Regions from separate parts of the Homo sapiens genome. Here region 1 is linked to region 2. Evidence: fine-mapped expression QTL. Tissue or cell type: lung. Region 2 holds a variant in brackets; the other region holds the start of a gene. All regions are shown on one strand. Distances are between the middles of the regions.

Region 1 (2,677 bases), 29 kb after region 2:
GATTTCTCAAAGGCTGTGCATCTGTGATCAAGGAGCCCACCAATGAAATTCTTTGTAGAGTTAAAAAAATTGCTTTATAGGTTGTTTTGGGGTATTATAGAGAAGTCTCCAGAGTATTTGGACTTCTAAGTTGTGGGTTCACTTTGAGCACCCACTATATGGCCAGCGATCCGAACCAGAAAGTTAATGATGAAGGTTCAAAGGGAATGGGGTGGCTACGAGTGTGGAATAGGAATGAGGGATCCTCAGAGAACAGGAATTCTGGGCACTGGGGATGGGGTGTGTGGACGCTAGGAAACAGGTAGGGTAGGAGGCCTGGAAGGTCAATGAAGTTCTTGGGGCTCAAAACATAGGTATTTTGAGAGCTGGGATACGGGAGGGCTTCCCTATCCCCAAGCGTGCGGTGAGGGCTGCGGGAGAATGGTTTCATTTTGACTTCAGACAGCCCAACTCGTCAGGATCTAACGGGGATTAACTGGGAGAGACATGGGGAGCAGCTGGCTTAGTCTCCCGCCCCTGGAAAGGCCAGGGTTGGTCCGAGTCGGGTGCCTCTGTGGGGCAGGGACTGGCTCTGCGGTAAGGAAAGAAATACGGGGGAGGGGCCCCGGGACCCGCCTTCTGGGGCGGTCGCAAGGGGTCCCGGAAGGCCGCGGTCCCGGGGGTCGGGGGGTCCCCGCGCGGGGGCGCGCCTCACCTCGCACATCCCCAGCCAGGGCCCGCCAAGTGGGCGCGTAGCCGATGCAGTGGCCACACCACGACGAGTAGAACTGCACGAGCCACGCGGCCGAGCTGTTGGCGGTGGCCCCGCGCACGCTGCCGCTGTCCAGCACCCACACGGCGTCCTCGCCCGCGCGGTACAGCCGCGCCGCACCGCCCGCGCCCGGCCCCACCGCCGCCGCCGCTAGCAGCACTAGCAGCCGCGGCAGCCGTGCGGCCCGCGGCGGGGGCGAGCGCCGGGCTCTCAGCGCAGGTCCCGCTCCGATTCCCGGGCTGCGCGCCACCGCCGCCCCGGCCGCCGCCATGTTGGAAGTGCCGCCGGCGCGCTGAACTTTCACCCTGGCAACCACCGTCACGTGCGCCGGCGCGCCCGGCCCCGCCCCCGCGCGCCCAGTTCTGTTCCGCCCCGCCCCCTCACGTCTGACCCCGCCCTCTCTCCCCGCCCCCGCCCCCGCCCATGCGTGGCAGCCCCGCCCCCAAGAGTCTGATGACGCCATCTCCCCGCCCAGGCGCGGCAGGCTCCGCCCAGGCCCCGCCCCACCCCGCCGCGCGTTCCCCAAACCCCTTCCCTGAACAGGGCCAGGTGGCCACATTTAGCAAATGGAAGTGCACGACGCCAGGTTCAACGTGAATTTCAGACAAACAGTGAGTCGGTTTTTCAGCCTAGGTCTGTGCCATGCCTGAAATACAAATTTAACAAGACATTCTTAGACGTAAAAAACTATTCCGGGGTTCTTTTACTTGGCAACCCCACCTGGGGCTTCAGAGGGTCTGCAAGCCAGCCTCGACTTTTTAATATGATATTGGAACGCTTAGAAAATGCAGCAAAACATCCACTCAAAGTCAGATGTGTTGTGTGCTACCTTTTAGGATGTTCCAGTCGAATGCAGCTTCACGGTTTGGAAATGAAATCATATGACTTTTTTGCTTCATTGAACAGGATACCTGATTTTTTTTTTTGTTCCTATTCCTAATTTTTACACATGTCAAGATTTTCTCTGAACTGTGTGACCAAAACAAAACAAGGGAGTGGGCGAGCCTGGGCAACATAGCGAGAGCCCATCTCTTAAAAAAAAGAAAAAAGCCGGGCATGGTGGTGCACACCTGTAGTCCCAGCTACTTGAGGGGCTAAGGTGGAGGATGGCTTGAGCCTGGGAGCTTGAGGCTGCAGTGAGCCGTGACTCTGCCACTGCACTCCAGCCTGGATGACAGAGCGAGACCTTGTCTCAAAATAAATAGATAACTGTATTGTGGGGTTCTGTGTAAGATTTTGTTTAAAAGGTTTTGCTGCTAACAATGGTTAACCCCAGATGAGAGGATTCTCCCCAGAGGGCCCCTGGCCAAGGCGTCTGCTCCCTTTTCCTCACGTCCTGCGTCTCCCTGTTCATGTTTCCTTCCATCACCCACGTTTCCTGGCTTCTGCTCTGTGCCAAGCCCTGGAGACAAATCAAGAACAAAACCGAGCCCCCAGTGTCCCTGGCCTGCATTTGGGCAGACCCCAAACAAACCAACGCGTAAAGCAGCCACCGCGTGCTATGAAAAGCAATGAAGCCGGACACGGAAGCAGGTGCCAGCAGGGCTGCCGTACAGAGGAGGGTGGGGAGGTCTTTGAGAAGGTGACCCGAATGGAGAAGGAGGTGAGGGAGGAGGCACACATGCAAAGGCCCTGGGGCAGAAGGGTGCTGAGCACGCTGGAGGAACAGCAAGGAGCCGGACCTGGTGGGAGCGGAGCAAGCTGGGGGAAGCGTGGGAGGGAAGAAAAGCTGAGAGCCCGAGCGAGACCCAGGGGGCCTCACAACCTGGGCCGCAGACTCAGACTTTGATGCTGAATGGGGGGGTGGCCACGGAAGGATCGGTGCAAGGATGCAGCTCTGCCCTTCTAGTTGCAGAGTAGGAGGGGCAGGAGGGGAAGCAGGGGACCTGGGAGGGGCCGCCGCCTCCTTCCACAAGCTGGAGGGAC
Region 2 (2,677 bases):
GATCTGGACTAAGGAGGGAATGGCAGGACGGAGTGCCAGGACCTCTTGGGGTGCTGGTCCCCTGAGCAAAGACTGGCACCTGCTGGCACCTGGTCTTGGGGAAAGCTCTGGAAAGGCTGCCACACTTACTGAATACATCAGTTTTCGTCAGATTGGCTTACTAAAAATTTAAAAAGCCCAACTACTACGTTGCTTGAGAAAACCCCATTTTGTCCAAAGGACAGGTGGTCACAGTGCACTTTTGGTGAGCTGTCCTTAAACTGAAGTCCCAGCATGACGCTGCCAAGGCAGACAGGAGGCCATGGCCATGATGCTGTCGTGGAGACAGTAAGTCACTGCTCCCCTTCCTCACAGCGGAGCCCGGGCCCCGAGCAGGGAGATGCACCAGCTAAGGGCAAGGGAAGGAAGGCGAGGGAAGGAGGGTGCAGCGTGGCTGGCGAGGGTTCTGGGGCTCACCCGCATCTTGTTGTTGACCAGGTCAAGCACGGCGTTGTAGGGGATCCTGTCCAGGGGAAGGCTGGCCAGCCACTCCTGCAGCATCTCCAACAGCTTCTTGACTGGCGGCCGTCCAGGGAACAGCTGCATGAGGAAGGAGCCACCTGAGAGCTACAGACCCAAACCCGGGCCCGCCCCCACCGCGGGGGGCACCGCACCTCCAAAGAGAAGCACTCCATCCGCAGAGGGGCTGAACCTAGGATGGGGCCTCTCATAACTCGGGTTTCTCTGATGGGAGGCAGGAAACCCAAGGGGCCATGGGGTGGGCATCTAGCCTGCGCCTCTCCCCAGGACAGCCTGTGCCCACGGCCATGCCTTTCTCCAGCCCGTGCCTGCAGCTCACCCACCTGCGCCCACGGCCTCGCTCCGGCCAGGTGACAGGCAAGGTCACGGTGTGTGACTCATCATGGAGCTGGCGGGGGCTTGCTGATTTATTCTGCCTTCCTCACGAGGAGCTGTGCTGACCCCGCCTGCCCGCCCGCTGGGCTTCCCCTCTGCCGTCACTGACTGTATGAAGGGCGCGCGGCAGTGCACATGCGCCGGCAGCCGGGGCTAACTGCCTATGGGCTTGTGTGGGCCGTGAGGCTGGCCGACATCAACACAGCTTGGGGAGGCGTCTGGCTGAGAAGATCCCAGGGCTCTGTCTTTTTAGGAGAAACTCTGATCAGCTGCTGCACCACAAACTGTGCAAAACATAGGCTGCCGAAAGAGCTCCGAAAACCCGAGCTGAAATCTCACGGGTGGCAATGCCAGACCAGAAAC[A/G]CCAGCCACCAAAAGAGTTCCTCAAACCCGAGCTGAAGCTCACAGGTGGCGATGCCAGACCAGAAACGCCGGCATCTTCAGCTCAGTCCAATATATTTTCTCCCGTGCAGGTTAAAAAGTACCATGATTAATTTACCAGAATCAAATTTATTTTAGACATCCAAGTAAACTTCAGAAAAATATTAAGAATAACTTATTAATACCCTGGCCTCAGGAGTTGCCCAGAGCACAAGTGTAAAAGCTCCAAGCCTAACTAGACTAAGGGGAAGACGGAGAAGCCGGGAGAGGAGAGCAGGTCTGCCTAGCGACAGCTGTGCGACTCCAGCGAATTAGCTGGCCGGCGGCCACCACCACTAAGAGCCACACTGTCCTCCACTAATATGATGGACAGATTAGCAGGACACTTTCTTAAAGGAAATGAGGCCAGCTAGAGATTTCTGAACTCTGGATGGCACCGTGGGGGAAAAAGCTGCCTGGGCAATGTTCATGCATTCATCTGAGGCACCTCCAGTCCTTCAAGATTTCCTGTACTTTTCACAAATCACTTTGTAAGTAAACTCTATCCAAAGTGCTCACTATAAATTATTCTATCATGCATCTTATTTTTGGCAAGATAAATATTTTAAGCCTAAGCCTTCTTGTCATTTAGACAGTAACAAGCAACCGAGCTCATGGAGTTACACCTGGCCACCTCCCTGGCTGGTCCTCTTCAGCCTGACCCTGGGCACGGCCAGGCCTGAGCTCTGTTGGGTGGCATCTCTGCCCGCTCCTGGCGACCCCCTCAGTGGTCTCAGACACCACATCTGTGCTGGTGATGGTGCTGAGCGTGAAGCTCCCAGGACCCCTCCCTGAACCTGGCTGGTGGGGCAGATGCACACCCCACCTGGATCTGCACAGCCCTTGCCTCTCCCTCTCTCTCTCCCCCCAGCCCCCGTGCAGCGCTCCTCTGAGAGCCAGCTGAGGTGTGTGTGGGCCTCCGCTCCCTCCTCCATCTACTCTCCAGGCAGCCAGAGCTGGGCTTTTCCAGCAGGTGCTCGGCTCACACCCCCGCCCCTCTCTACACCCACCGCCCCAGCCCCAGTGCTGGGAACAGCAGTGGACGCAGGAGGCACTCGGGAAATGGGTGGAATGAGTTGGGGCGTGGGCCTGGGCGACAAAGCAAGGTGGAGAGCACCTCAGCGGAGCTGGCGGAGCCCCCGCAGTGTCCGACGCCCCCCAGGGCCCACTCTGTGCAGAGCCAAATTCCCACATGCAGCCCAGACCAGCACCGTCCCAAACCTTGGCCAAGACAGTCACAAAGTCCTTGAGCGTCTTCAGCTCTGCTCCGGCCAGGGACTTGTGGGCTGCCAGCTCCACCCGCAGGAGGTAGTGTAGCCCTGACTCCAGGTCCACCGTGTACAGCTTCGACCTAGGACGGGAT

Evidence for each region. PIP is the estimated chance that this variant, and not a neighbour inherited with it, causes the effect.
Region 1: it holds the start of QSOX2, and the variant in region 2 is fine-mapped to the expression of QSOX2 in lung (TOPMed, PIP above 0.99).

The regions. Positions count from the first base shown.
Region 1 is chr9:136,244,782-136,247,458 of GRCh38, forward strand. It overlaps QSOX2 (quiescin sulfhydryl oxidase 2), which reads right to left and starts at 1,031. Exons shown (of 12, transcript NM_181701.4): 1 at 695-1,031. The coding sequence starts at 1,022. RefSeq lists silencers at 559-968, 999-1,268.
Region 2 is chr9:136,216,144-136,218,820 of GRCh38, forward strand. QSOX2 (quiescin sulfhydryl oxidase 2) reads right to left here. Exons shown (of 12, transcript NM_181701.4): 8 at 2,536-2,665; 9 at 457-579. Among named protein-coding and RNA genes, the nearest start is that of LHX3, 12 kb to the left of the region's middle. RefSeq lists an enhancer at 1-367. The variant A/G (reference allele first, on the strand shown) is at 1,258.